2 linked regions of the Homo sapiens genome follow. The protein of the gene in region 1 purifies or fractionates together with the protein of each later gene. This does not show direct contact. Each region holds a gene or a part of one and is shown on either strand. Other genes may lie near its edges.

The links. Proteins that work in one complex are often made in the same cells at the same time.
Region 2: the proteins of EIF5A2 (region 1) and DOHH purify together in Homo sapiens (affinity purification with mass spectrometry; 3 studies listed by BioGRID and IntAct, with this or other methods). This does not show direct contact.

What each region holds. Positions count from the first base shown.
Region 1 is NC_000003.12:170,891,331-170,899,151, reverse strand, and holds part of EIF5A2 (eukaryotic translation initiation factor 5A-2), read left to right. Parts: intron 1-4,728; coding exon 4,729-4,860; intron 4,861-5,732; coding exon 5,733-5,792; 3' UTR 5,793-7,821. UniProt on the Homo sapiens protein: Translation factor that promotes translation elongation and termination, particularly upon ribosome stalling at specific amino acid sequence contexts.
Region 2 is NC_000019.10:3,490,675-3,497,816, forward strand, and holds the end of DOHH (deoxyhypusine hydroxylase), read right to left. Parts: intron 6,940-7,142; exon of another isoform or gene 6,684-6,939; intron 6,370-6,683; exon of another isoform or gene 6,213-6,369; 5' UTR 6,141-6,212; coding exon 5,867-6,140; intron 5,732-5,866; exon of another isoform or gene 5,557-5,731; intron 5,481-5,556; exon of another isoform or gene 5,441-5,480; intron 3,431-5,440; coding exon 3,354-3,430; intron 3,238-3,353; coding exon of another isoform or gene 3,097-3,237; exon of another isoform or gene 1,841-3,096; intron 1,826-1,840; coding exon 1,588-1,825; intron 1,138-1,587; coding exon 818-1,137; 3' UTR 150-817; downstream 1-149. UniProt on the Homo sapiens protein: Catalyzes the hydroxylation of the N(6)-(4-aminobutyl)-L-lysine intermediate produced by deoxyhypusine synthase/DHPS on a critical lysine of the eukaryotic translation initiation factor 5A/eIF-5A.

The sequences.
Region 1 (7,821 bases):
AGATAAATACAAGGTATGACCCTGGAGTTAGGGAAATAAGTTGCTATCCAGGACAATACTAGGACAATTGGCAAATTTAAATATGTACTATATATTGAATAATAGGTTATCAATATTAAATTCCCTGATTTTGAAAAATAAATTGTTGTTATCTAAGAGTATATCCTTGTTCTTGAGAAAAATACACTGAAGTTTTAATTGCTGAAAAGTCATGGCTGTTGCACTGAAGTATTTATTGCTGAAGAATCATGATCTTTGGAACTTACTCTCAATAGTTCTGTAAAAATAATAAGAATATATATGATATATATATATATTGGATGTATACATAGAGAAAATAGTGCACATGTGATTAAATGTGAACAATGGATGTATCTAGGTAAAGGATATGGGATTTCATTGCATTATTGCAACTTTTCTATAGAACTTAAGATTTTTTAATAAATAATTCAATTTAAAAGATTGTATTAGTCCATTTTCACACTGCTATAAAGAACTACCTGAAACTGAGTAACTTATAAGAAAAGAGATTTAACTGATTCACAGTTCCACATGGCTGGGGAGGCCTCAGGAAACTTACAATCATGGAGGAAGGTGAAAGGGAAGCAAGGCATGTTTTATATGGCAGCAGGAGAGACAGCAAGCAGGGGGGATCTGTCAAACACTTTTAAGCCATCAGATCTCATGAGAACTCACTTACTATCATGAGAACAGCATGAGGGAAACTGCCCCCATGATCCAATCACCTCCTACCAGGTTCCTCCCTTGACATGTGGGGATTATAATTCAAGATGAGATTTGGGTGAGGACACAGAGCCAAATCATATTATTCTGTCCCTGGCCCCTTCCAAATCTCATGTTCTCACTTTCAAAACACAATCATGCCTTCTCAACAGTCCCTGAAAGTCTTAACTCATTCCAGCATTAACCCAAAAGTCCAAGTCCAAAGTCTCATCTGAAACAAGGGAAGTCCCTTCCGCCTATGAGCCTGTAAAATGAAAAGCAAGTCAGTTACTTCCTAGAAACAATGAGGATACAGGCATTGGGTAAATACTGTTATTTCAAATGGGAGAAATTGGCCAAAACAAAGGAGCTACAGGTCCCATACAAGTCCGAAACCTAGCAGGGTAGCCATTCAGTCTTAAAGCTCCAAAATAATCTCCTTTGCCTCCATGTCTTACATCCAGGGCACACTGATCCAAAAGGTAGGCTCCCAAGGTCTTGGGCAGCTCCACCCCTGTGGCTCTACAGGGTACAGCCTCTGCAGCTGCTTTCACTGGTTGGTATTGAGTGCCTGTGGCTTTTCCAGGCACATGGTACACCATTCTGGAATCTAGAAGATGGTGACCCCCCTTCTCACAGCTCCACTAGGCAGTGTCCCAGTGGGGACTCTGTGTGGGGGATCTAACCTGACATTTCCCTTCCACACTGCCCTAGCAGAGGTTCTCCATGAGGGCTCTGCCCCTGCAGCAGACTTCTGCTTGGACCTCCAGGCATTTCATACATCCTCTGAAATCTAGGCGGAGGCTCCCAAACCTCAACTCTTGCCTTCTGTGTACCTGCAGGCCCAACACCACATGGAAGCCACCAAGGATTAGGGCTTACACTCTCTGAAGCAACAGCCCAAGCTGTACCTTGACCCCTTTTAGCCACAGCTGGAGCTGGAGTGGCTGGGACACAGGGCACCAAGTCCCGAGGCTATACAGAGCAGCAGGGCTCTGGGCCTGGCCCATGAAACCATTTTTCCCTCCTAGGCCTCTGGACCTGTGTTGGGAGGGGATGCCATGAAGATATCTGGAATGCCCTGGAGACATTTTCCCCATTGTCTTGGCTATTAATATTCAGCTCCTTGTAACTTATGCAAATTTCTGCAGCTGGCTTGAATTTCTTCCCAGAAAATGGGTTTTTCTTTTCTACTACATGGTCAGGATGTACATTTTTCAAACTTCTATGCTATGCTTCCCTTTTAAACATGAGCTCCAGTTTCAGATCATCTCTTCATGAATGCATATGACTGTACACTTTCAAAAAAAGCCAGGTTACCTCTTGCACACTTTGCTGCTTAGAAATTTCTTATGCCAGGTAACCTAAATCATCTCTCTCAAGTTCATAGTTCCACAGATCTCTAGGGCAGGGCAAAATGCTGCCAGTCTCTTTGCTAAAGCACGGCAGGAGTGACCTTTGTTCCAGTTCCCAGTGAGTTCCTCATCTCCATCTGAAACCACCTCAGCCTGGACTTCACTGTCCATATCATTGTCAGCATTTTGTTCAAATCCATTCAACAAGTCTCTAGGAAGTTTCAAATTCTCCCTCATCTTTCTTTCTTCTGAGCCCTCTAAACTGTTGCAGTCTCTGCCTGTTACCCAGTTCCAAAGTTGTTTCCTTATTTTCAGGCATCTTTATAGCAGTGGCCCAAACTCCTGGTACCAATTTTCTGTATTAGTCCTTTTTCACACTGCTATAAAGAACTACCTGAGACTGGGTAATTTATAAAGAAAAGAAATTTAATTGAGTCACAGTTCCACATGGCTATGGAGGCCTCAGGAACCACGGCAGAAGGCGAAGGGGAAGCAAGGCACATCTTACATGGCAGCAGGAGATACAGCAAGTGAGGGGGGAACTGCTAAACACTTTGAAGAGAACTCACTCACTATCATGACAACAGCATTGCGGAGACTGACCCCATGATCCAATTGCGTCCCACCAGCTCCCTCCCTCGACATGTGGGGATTACAATTCAAGATGAGATTTGGGTGGGGACACAGAGCCAAACCATATCAAAGATTAAATAATTCATTCTCATTATTTTTGTTTTTCGTAGCTTAGTTTTATTTTTGAAAACTAATTGTATTTAATATAGCAATTTATCTTAATGTTTAATGTTTGTAAATGCATTGTTTTACTAGATGTTTTATATATTTGTACATCTGAAATGCTTTATATATTTCATTCCACAGTTTATGATTCTTAACTCTTAAAAAATAAAATAGCTCCATTACATACATCATTTTCAAAATATCAGTATTATTATTTGGCTTCTGTGTTTCAGTCACTAGTGGCACAGTACGAACATTTAACTCTTGAAATAGACAAGCTGTGCTTTAGGGAATTACTAAAAGAACAGAAATCAGAAAGATTTGTCTTGGAATGTTGTGGTTGTTTAAAAATTACACTTCAAGCTAGGTGCATTGGTGCACACCTATAGTCCCAGCTCCTTGGAAGGCTAAAGCAGAGGCTCACTTGACCCCAGGAGTTCGAGGCCAGCCTAGGCAATATAATGAGACGCCCATCTTTAAAAATATATATATTTTTTAAAAAGTTACACTTCTACCTCAACCTCCTTGCTCCCACTTCTCTACCAGCCACCTCACAAATATTTGAGGGTCTAAGAGGTTAGTTAAAAGTCTTTGTTGTAGCTCTGTAGGATTTCTTATTTTTGAGATTTCTAGACATATAAAAACTCAAATTTCCTGTGATAGATGGAGTTTCTGTGGAGAGCCATAGGCAGTTTTGGTAGATGGTGTATGTGGAGGAGAGCAATCCCAACGATATGCCTGGGTTATATCATAGTGGTTACAGGGGTTCAAGGACCATTGTCTTTGACTCCTTTTGTAGATATTAGTAGCTGGTATTCTGGATGGTAGCCTTTTATAAAACATGTTAGGATTCGAGGCATACTAATAGTGTACATGCTTTTATTAATAGAATAAATGAGTGGAGGTTGGTTGTTTACTCATTCCTGTAGTAAAAGAAGTTCAGTGGTATCAAAACCGTGCTTTTTTGCAGGTTGGGTTGACAACTGGGTTTTTTTTTTTCACTAATGTTATCCATACACTAGTGGATTTTGTTGTTGTTGTTGTTGTTGACTGAAGACCAAAAGTTTTCCACTTAATTTTGTTCATACTCAAATTAGAAAATGCATTGTTTGTAATAGCAAAAATAACTTTTATGCCCAGTAATGTGAAATTGGTTAAATCAGTAATAGTATGTCCATGCAGATATGTGGTAGTTAACTAAGGTAGGTTTACATTTTCTGCTTAGAAAGTATTTATAAGACATATTATTAAGTCAAAACAGCTCACTGTAAAGTACTTATAATATCTCTTTTTTTTTTTTTTTTTTTTTTGAGACAGAGTCTCGCTCTGTCGCCCAGGCTGGAGTGCAGGGGCACGATCTTGGCTCACCGCAAGCTCCACCTCCTGGGTTCACGCCATTCTCCTGCCTCAGCCTCCCAAGTAGATGGGACTACAGGTGTCTGCCACCACACCTGGCTAATTTTTTGTATTTTTAGTAGAGATGGGGTTTCACCGTGTTAGCCAGGATGGTCTCAATCTCCTGACCTCATGATCCGCCCGCCTCGGCCTCCCAAAGTGCTGGGATTACAGGCGTGAGCCACCGCACTTGGCCCAATATCCCATTTTGATTAAAAAAAAAAACAAAACAGCAACTATATTTATTTTGTGAACATAAATGGAATACACTATAAAGAAACCTAAACTGTTTAACAAGGCAGAGATTGGGTATGGGAAGTACCGGGAGGAGTAAACTTATATTTCCATTCTGTACATATTTTATATTTTTTATATTTTTAGCATTTTAAATACCAAGAATATTAATATATTACTGTATACTTATATGAATTAATATCAATTGCAATTTAACTATGTAAGCATTACACAGAAGTGGATATAATCTAATCAGCACAAATGATATAATTTCTTCTAATAGCTGATATGCATTCAAGATGGTTACCTTTCCCTGCTGACAGAAACTGGTGAAGTTCGTGAGGATCTTAAACTGCCAGAAGGTGAACTAGGCAAAGAAATAGAGGGAAAATACAATGCAGGTGAAGATGTACAGGTAAAGACTTAGAGAAGGATTATTTTTGAAAACCATTTTATAAAAACTTTGACCTCAACTAGTTAACATAAAATACTACATATGGAATGTGGTTTAAAAATACTGCTAAAATGTTGAAAATGATCTCTCAGGCAGGTTTTCCATAAAACCCTTAGAGACTCATTATCAAAGAAAGTATCAAAGTTCATTTTTGCTACATCAGCATTACTCTCAAACCCAAATTTGTTTTGAAGCTCTGCACCTGACTTTTTTTTTTTTTTTGAGACGGAGTCTCCCTCTGTCACCCAGGCTGGAGTGCAGTGGCGTGATCTCGGCTCATTGCAACCTCCGCGTCCCAGGTTCAAGCGATTCTCCCCTCAGCCTCCTGAGTAGCTGGGATTGCAGGCGCGTGCCACCACATCTGGCTAATTTTTGTATTTTTAGTAAAGATTGGGTTTCAGCATGTTGGCCAAGCTGGTTTTGAACTCCTGACCTCAGGTGATCCCCCAACCTTGGCCTCCCAAAAGTGCTGGGATTACAGGCCTGAGCAAGGCGCCCAGCCCTGAGCTATTCTTACAGGTAAGAAATGATGCTAGTGGAATGTTAAAGAGTGAAGGAGATTTACTGTCTTCGTTACAACTTTCAGAAATGTAACGGGTAGTAAGTGTTCAAACATTTATAGTTATTTTTCCTGTTCCCTGGAAGTTGTCTTACAAACCACTCTGAGAAATTCTGCTTTAGAAAACTGTAAAGAAAGTAGCTTGTTTTGGAATACCCCTTTCAGAAGTCCATATGTACAAAATATCCACAAATATACAATATATGAGGAACTAATTATATCTTCTATATGTATTGTCTTCTGAATAACGTTTTGCCTGCTTTTTTCCTTCTAGGTGTCTGTCATGTGTGCAATGAGTGAAGAATATGCTGTAGCCATAAAACCCTGCAAATAAACGGAAACATCAGGCATGAACACTGTTTATGTCTGAATCAACTGCAGATCTAATTTGGTTCTAAGTTGTCACCAAAGCTATAGCCTTCATAAGCAACCTCATTTCTTTTTTTAATTGTTTTCAGATTGTGCTGGGTTAGTTTTGCAAGCAATTGATAATTTTTAAAAAATTATCAATATGTATAATTTTTTTTGAATTTTGTAGATATGTTTCCTATAATATTCCTGTGGTTTTCAGTATGTCAGTCCAAGAAACAAACAAGATAGCTTCAGCAGATGTGATTTGTCTGAGCAAATCATTCCTGTGTTTTAGTTAGATGATAAACCAGGGTTTTAAATCAAACAATGTAGCATAAAGTGGTATTGAAGTACCATATTTAAGTTGAACTGCTCTGCATTAATTACAGATTTAATATAAAATGAACTGATTATATATTGGAATTGTTGCACTTTCAGCCTGTGTAGGGCAAACACAAATCCTTAAACAAAAATCATGTTATCAAAAACTGTCAGTTATTTTGGTGGCCACATGCAACCATGTGATTACTTTGGTCATACTATTTACCAAATTGTTGGCAAACTTGATGTAACCTTATATGGTGGTTTTAGTCCCTTCTTATGGTTGGCAGAAGGGCACTGAACTGTTGGGTGAAAGTTAGTTAGCAAGTAAGATTATAAGGAAGACACAAAAGACAGTGGCAAAGAGGGTTGATTAAATCTATAAGTTTTTATGTGAGGACTTTGTAAGTCAGCATAAAAATGAAAAGTTGTTTCTCAGTTGTTTTTGCTTTTAACTTTGCCCCCAACGTTTAAAGGGAGTGATCTGCTTTACATGATACTATGCAATGCTTGTTTTCCAACTATGTTGAATAAATAGTAATATTTATCAGTAAATACTCCTTTCCAACTTCCTTTTTTTTTTTTTTTTTTTTGAGACTGAGTCTCACTCCATCAGCCAGGCTGGAGTGCAGTGGTGCAATCTCGGCTCACTGCAACCTCTGCCTCCCGAGTTCAAGCAATTCTCCTGCCTCAGCCTCCCAAGTAGCTGGGACTACAGGTGCATGCCACCACGCCCAGCTACTTTTTTGTGTATTTTAGTAGAGATGGGGTTTCACCATGTTGTCTAGGCTGGTCTTGAACTCCTGACCTCAGGTGATCCACCTGCCTCAGCCTCCCAAAGTGCTGGGATTACAGGCATGAGCCACCACACCCAGCCCCTTTCCAACCATTTCTAAGTAGATTTTTTGACATTAATGTATTTATTAAACAAAAACTGAGAATTCCTTAAATTGATTTGGAATTTTTGTTAATTTTATGTCCTTTTTTTCCTAAAGTGAATTAAAGTGAATCATGGAAGCAGCATTACTTTATATGAATATTATTATTTAAGTTAAGTTATTTTAAGTATATGCATTTTTTCTGATTGTTGTGTGACTTAATTCAGTTGCTGGTGTGAACTATAACTAGCAAATAATTCTATAAACTGAATTATTTTAAAAGGTATTTTAGGTGACACCACTGCATTTCTATTTCATCTTTTGAGTCATATGTATATTATTTCCAGAATTTTAGACATTATTACAGGGTTTGTGAGGACCTTTGACTCAGTGACAATCATCATATTGGAGCAAAACATAGAACAAAATCACTATCTCAGAAATACCTTAATTCTCTAAGACTGGCTCTTAGACCTCTCCCATCATGCCTTGACCTCTAAAAAGCCCTTTGTTCCTATCTTCTAAAGGAAAGTATATCATATATGATGATGTAACTGATCTAATCAGTGACTGGAAATAGCATTAGTAACAGAAGATCCCAAGTTTTAGTTGCTTAATTTGTACACACTTTTAAATATTGTCTTAGCCTCGGCAAACCAATTTGGGGAAGAAGCAAGATACTTTAAGAGAAATACAAAGGAAATTTCTAAAGCACAAGAAATAGTGAGGTAGTAGTTAGTCGTCTTTCCTACAACATTTTAGCTTTTGCCCATCTAAAGCACAATTAAAATTAGGCTACATTCTTTCCAGTAT
Region 2 (7,142 bases), on another chromosome or scaffold:
CAGCAGGACAGATCCTAGAGCCAATGGCTGCGGATACAACCGTCTCCCCGCCCAGACGCCACACACTCTCGGGGAACGTTCCCTGAAAGCCCCCACCCCTCCCTCCCTCCCACGCTCCCCTCACCCAACACACTCAGAGGAGTCAGTGCTTGGCAAAAATAATTTAATATTCCATCTGGGCAGCGCTCTGAGGTCTGCTTGTCCCTCCCTGGCCCCTGTGCCCTACCTGACCCACTCAGGGACCACCACCCTGTCCCTACCCAGGCCTCGGGGTGGGGGAGTCAGAGGCCCCCAGACCCTGTGTCCCATTCCTAGTGAAGCTGAAGCCACCATAACGTCAGCCTCTTCCCAGAGCCCCAGCTCTGCCCCTGGCTTCCCTCGCGATCCTCCCCTGGCTCCCCTCGCGATCCTCCCTTGGCTTCCCTCGCGATCCTCCCCTGGCTTCCCTCGCGATCCTCCCCTGGCTTCCCTCGCGATCCTCCCCTGGCTTCCCTCGCGATCCTCCCCTGGCTTCCCTCGCAATCCTCCCCTGTCCTGAGCCGGGCATCCCAGAGCCTCCCGCAGAGTCCCACCCCAAGCCTGGAAACTTCCACGCTACAGCCCTGCGCCAGGCCCCGAGGAGCAGTCAGGGGACTCAGGGAGTCACAGCACAACGGCAGCTCCTCGGTCCCAGACGGAGGAGGGGGACAGCAACCATGCGCCCAGCAAGACACAAGCGATGACACCGATTTACACACACCCGGTTTAGACGCCAAAGCTCTGCGGGGGAGGAGCGGCCCTCAAGAGTCCTCCGGGAGCTCCGGGTGAGGGTGGGGCCCTAGGAGGGGGCCCCGCGCAGCTGCTCCAGGCCGTCCGCGTACTGGAAGGCCCGCCCGGTCTCGTGCTCATACATGTCCAGAGCCACCTCGCAGCTCTCACGCACCACGCGCTCTGGGTCGTCCGCGTGAGCCTGCAGCGCGGCCAGGCAGGCGGGCCGGGCAATGGCGCCCAGGGCCTCCGCGCACTCGTGCCGCACCATGGGGTTCTCGGTGCATCGGGCCAGGGCGGCCGCCAGCTGGGGCACCGCCGCCTCGTGCTGCAGCTGTCCCAGGACGTAGCCGACCTCGTGGCGGAAGAGGGCGCTCCCACAGTGCAGACCTGCAGGGGAGAGGGACACTCGCTGGGGCCAGGAGGGGTGGGAAGGGGAGCTCTGTCTTTTCGAAGACATGGGGTCTTGCTATCTTGCCCAGGCAGGTCACAAAGTCCTGGCGATCTTCCCATCCCGGCCTCCCAAAGTGCTGGGACGACAGGCGTGAGCCACCACGCCCAACCTGGGGTGTTCTACCTTGAAGACACCCCTGCCCCCAGCCCCAGTGATTAGGGATGCCCGGGGGAACTGACCGCAGCTATGGGGGCGGGAAAAGCTGGGAGCTATGGGGACCAAGAGGGACGCTTGCACGGGTTCTTAAGAGGCCCCATGGGAAATGCTTGGGGCCAGGCCCGGGATGCCGTTCCCGGGGGCAGGCCGCGGCCCCACTGCACAGATGCCATCACTGAACCTCACAGCGAGGCACTGCCCAGGACCCCACCCCAGAAGCCCCTCCTCACCCTCGGCCAGCGCCAGGGCGGCCTCCTCGCCTCCCGCGTTGCGCAGGGCGAACATGGCGCGGTATCGCTCGAAGAGCGGCCGGGACTCATCCAGCAGCGCCTCCCGCAGGCGCCCCACGTCACGCTCCTCAGCCGGCGGGGCAGGGTCCACGGAGAGGTAGGGTCCCGCCGCCGGCTCCCCGCCGTGCTGCTGCAGCCACTCCAGCCTGCGCACGGCCAGCTGGCAGGTCTCGGCCACCTGCGGGGAGGGGGTATCAGGCAGCGGGTTGGCCCTGGGGGGTCGCAGGGGCCCTTCCCCACCCCCCGGGATGGCAGCTTAGCAGGGGAGAGAGACACTGGCAGGGTGACTAACCCATCATTCCAGGCAGGAAGTAAGCCAGCAGGGGTGGCTGACTTGTGAGTGACCGGGGGACTGGAGGGCTGGGGAGGGCCTCAGGGAGGAGGTGATGTGGAGGCAGAGACCTAAGCCAGCTTAGGGAGGGAATCAGGTGGAGACCCGGGGATGGGGAAGCAGCGGTGGAAAGGCCCTGAGGCAGGACCCTGCGGGAGGGGTGAGGGCCAAAGGAACATGTGCGGCCCCACCTGACCAGGTAAGGCCTGCGGGCCACTGTAAGGGCTTGGGATTTTGTCCTAAAGGTGATGAGATATCGTGAGAGCTTTAAGCATGGAACAGAACAGCAGAATTGAGTGTCACACGTACCCCCGGCTGCCCCGGAGGAGGAGAGACTGAGGGTCGGGGTGGGATGTGGACAAGAAGTGGCAGGGGAGAAAGGAACATGCATGTCCGTGGCGGCATAACTCATAACAGCTAAAAAGCAGAGACAATTCAAGCATCCAGCCACAGTGAGTGGACACAGCATGGGCCGTCCACACCACGGAACGTGACTCAGCCACAAAAAGGAATGACGGGCCGGCCGAAGCGGCTCATGCCCCTAATCCCAGCAGTTAGGGAGACCAAGGCAGGAGGATCGCTTGAGCCCAGGAGTTCAACACCAGCCTGGGCGACAGAGCGGGACTTCATCTCTATAAAGAAAAAACTAATAAAATAAAAATTTGTTTCATTTTTGGGCCAGGCGCGGTGGCTCACGCCTGTAATCCCAGCACTTTGGAGGCCAAGGCGGGTGGATCACGAGGTCAGGAGATCGAGACCATCCTGGCTAACATGGTGAAACCCCGTCTCTACTAAAAATACGAAAAGATTTGCTGAGCGTGGTGGCAGGCGCCTGTAGTCCCAGCTACTCTGGAGGCTGAGGCAGGAGAATAGCATGAACCTGGGAAGCAGAGCTTGCAGTGAGCCGAGATCGCGCCCACTGCACTCCAGCCTGGGCGACAGAGCGAGACACCGTCTCAAAAAAAAAAAAGAAGAAATGTTGGAAGGTAGCAGGAGATCTCTGAAGAGGTCTGGTGGGCCAGGACAAGGTATCAGAGGTAGAGGGCACTGGGTGGGTTCAGAGGGGTCTTGGCAGAGGGACTGGACGTGGGGGTTCAGAGAAAGGGGGTCAGGCCGGCTCAGGGGCTCAAGGCCCGGGATGGAAGCGGGTGAGCAAAGCTGGTTGTCGCCGTTTTGCCAAATGGGGCGCAGCAAGTGTCTGTCCAGATTGTCGCCCTCGCCTTCCTCATCCCTGGGGCATCCTTGGCCAAGTGGTCGCCCTGGCAACCAGAGATGGGGAGGGTCTGAGGCTGCTCCAGGTCAGGGCTGGGGCAGGGCTGGGCAGGGCTTCCCAGGGACCCGAGACTGGCAGGGAGACAAGCAGGGGCCTGGTTACCTCGATGACGGGGTCCGAGGAATACTGCTTCAGGATCTCCAGAACTTCCGGGTCCCCGATGGCCCCCAGGGCCTCCCCTGGGAAGAAGCAGCCGGAGAGCTCATGTTGGTGGGGTGGATGTGTGGAAAATGCCCGGCTACCTCTGGGACCGGAGGACACCCCTCCCAGGGCTCTGCCACTGTGGGGAAGCCCCGCCTCTGTCCACGGCTGATTGGAGCAGCAGTCGGTACAGGCTCCCCGCTGGACCAATCAGCATCCCCTCCCCAGAGCAAGGCACTGCCTGGAACCGCACCTGGCTGCCGCTCAGAGCAAAATGGACCCCATCCCGGCCCGTACCATGAGACAGGGAGACAAGTATATCCCTACAACTCGGGATCACAGCTGACAAGCAGCTCCAAGAACCCAGGAGGTCGGGGGTGCAGTGAGCTATGATCACACCACTGTACTCCAGCATGGGCGACAGAGTGAGACCCTGTCTCAAAAAAACAAACAAAAAAAATTCCCAAAACAGGCCGGGCCTGCCGGCTGGAGACTCCAGAATTTGGGGCCACTGGGGCTACACTTAGGTGGGTTCGGGTACAGGCGCAAGTGCAGGCGTCGCAAGCCCAGGTCGGAGCAAGGCTGGCGGCGGCTCCCCGTAGAGCCCTGGGTGCAGATGTTCCTTGAATTTTCTCAGAATCGAGCTCAAGGGCCCTGCCTGTGAGGCAGCTGAGCTGGTGGCTTTTGCCTTTCCTGAAGGTTGCGGTTTGCGTTTGTGCACCTGCCTGGCAGGCTCCCTCTGCCGGGAAAAGTCCCGTATGCGCCAACACAGGCTCTGTGTCAGGCACCTCCCACGCGCTAATTGCAAATGAGCTCACTGGTTACAGAAACACAGTCCCAGTGGCACAGACGCACCAACTACCTGCCTCACTGGTCTCCTTCGCTGTCTAGGTCCCTCGCTACAACAGTCCATTTTTTTTTTTTTTTTAGAGCTTCGCTCTTGTGACCCAGGCTAGAGTACAATGGCGCGATCTCCACTCACTGAAAACTCCGCCTCCTGGGTTCAAGTGATTCTCCTGCCTCAGCCTCCCAAAGTAGCTGGGATTACAGGCGCCGGCCACCACGCCCAGCTACTTTTTTTTGTATTTTTAGTTGAGACGGGGTTTCACCATGTTGGCCAGGCTAGTCTTGAACTCCTGACCTCAGGTGATCCACCCGCCTCAGCCTCCCAAAGTGCTGGGATTACAGGCGTGAGCCAATGCACCCGACCTGAACAGTCCATTTTTTTGAGACAGGGTCTCACTCTGTTGCCCAAGCTGGAGTGCAGTGGCATGATCATGGCTAACTGCAGCCTCAACCTCCCTGGCTCAAGTAATCCTCCTGCCTCAGCCTCCTGAGTAGTTGGGACCACACGCGTGAGCCACGATGCCCGGCTTGTATCTGTATTGTCACTGTTTTGTCTCTTACTACATGACAGAGCCTGGCATACAGTAGGTGCTCACTAAATGTGTGTCCAATGAGTGGAGTAAATCTAATATACATTAGGGATTGGGGATCTATGGCTTGTCGCTTGTTTTTATACGAGCAAAGAATGGTTTTTAAAACACTTTTAAGGGTTTAAGGCGGGGTGCGATGGCTCATGCCTGTAATCCCAGCACTTTGGGAGGCCGAGGCAGGTGGATCACTTGAGGCCAGGAGTTCAAGGCCAGCCTGGCCAACATGGCAAAACCCATCTCTACTAAAAATACAAAAATTACCCAGGCGTGGTGGCACACACCTGTAACGCTATCTACTTGGGAGGCTAAGGCAGGAGAATCACTTGAACCCGGGAGGCAGAGGTTGCAGTGAGCCAAGACGGCACCACAGTACCCCAGCCTGGGCGACAGAGTGAGACTCTGACTCAAAACAAACAAATAAATGGTTTAAAACAAAAAATCAAAGGGATAGTACTTCCTGATGGGTGGAATTTATATGAAATTCAAATCTCAGCATTTACAAATGAAGTTTGTTTTTTGTTTTTTCACAGACAGGATCTCACTCTGTTGCCCAGGCTGGAGTGCGGTGGCACGATCATGGCTCACTGCAACCTTGACTTCCCGGGCTCCAGCGATTCTCCCGCCTCAGCCTCCCAAGTGGCTGCGACTACAGGTGCATGCCACCATGCCTGGCTAATTTTTGTATTTTTTCTAGAGACAGGGTTTTGCCATGTTGCCCAGGATGGTCTTGAACTCCTGAGTTCAAACGATCCACCTTCCTGGGCCTCCCAAAGTGCTAAGATTACAGGCCTGAGCCACCGCCCCCTGCCCAGTTGAGGTTGTCTGGGCACACAGCCTTAGCCATTTGGTGACAGATGACCTGCGCTGGCTTTATTGAGTCGCTGTCTGGCTGCAGAGCTGCAGGTATTTACTATCTGGTGCTCTATGGGGCAGTTGACCACTCTGATATTTATCACCTGAGTGAGGAAGGGGACACGTGGGGTCATGAAGAAGTGAGGCAGGAGGGAGCAGGTGCCCGGGACACAGACAGGTGCTCACCTGCCTCATGGCGCACCATGGGCTCCTGACGGGTGTCTTGCAGCACGTCCACCAGCATGGGGATGGCGCGGGCATCCTGCATCTGGCCCAGGCAGTAGGCCAGCTCGTGCTTGAGCAGGGCGGAATCGTCATCGAAGGCCTGGCTGATCCATGCAATGGCGCCTGGGCCGCCGAGCCCACGCAGCGTGAACAGCGCCCGGAAGCGGGCCTGCAGGGGCTGCTTGGGGTCCACCAGCGTCTGCCCGATGGCATCCACCTCCTGCTCCGTCACCATCGTGCTGTCAATGGGTCCCGGCCTTCCACAACCCTGCTCAGGCTAAACCTGGGGACGCGGGGATGTAAGAACCTGTGGCAGAAAAATGAGAGCCCAGGTTAGAAGCCCCCTTCACCAGTGCGTTGTCTGTTCCTAGGACCTGGGTGGGGCAAATTCCTACCCACTGACCAACCTGAGCATCTACGCTGAAAGCTCAGCTCCAACCTCCCTACTAGCTGTGCAGCCTTCCGTAAGTTGCTTTCCCTCTCTGGGCCTCAGTCTCTGCACTGCCTCTCGCCTATAGGCCTATCAGAAATGACCTCCACTGTCTGCTCTCCACACAGCAGCCAGAGGGACAGCTGACCCCCAAAATGGCCCTAGCGATCCCCACCCAATATTCAAGGCTTTATATAGCGATCCCCACCCAATATTCAAGGCTTTATATAGTCCTCTCCCACTCTGAACAGGGCTGACCCATGTGAATGCCAAGAAGATGGAACAGAGCAAGACTTCCAAGGTTAGGGCATAAAAAGCACAACAGTCTCATCCTTGTTCTCTCTCTAGGGGAAGCCAGTGACCATGTTGTGAGGATGCTCAAGCAGTCTTTTGTAGGGGCCCACGTGGCAAAAAACTGAGCCCTCCCACCAACAGCCATGTGAGAGAAGTGGGCTGGCAGCAGCTCGTCCAGCCCCAAGCGAACCTTCAGATGATGCAGCCCCAGAGCGTCTCCACTGAGGCCTTACCAGAGGCCAGACCCAGAGCCAGCCAGCTAAGCCAGGCCCAGAGCAACTGTGTGCGACACTGTTTACTGTTGTTGAAGGTAACCAAGTATGTTTTTTTGTTTGTTTTTGAGACAGGATCTTGTTCTGTCGCCAGGCTGGAGTACGGCAGCATGATCACGGCTCACTGTAGCCTCGAACTCCCAGTCTCAAGTGATCCTCCTGCCTCAGACTTCCTAGTGGCTGTGTCTACAGGCACACACCAGCATGCCCAGCTAATTTTTTTTTTATTATTTGTAGAGAT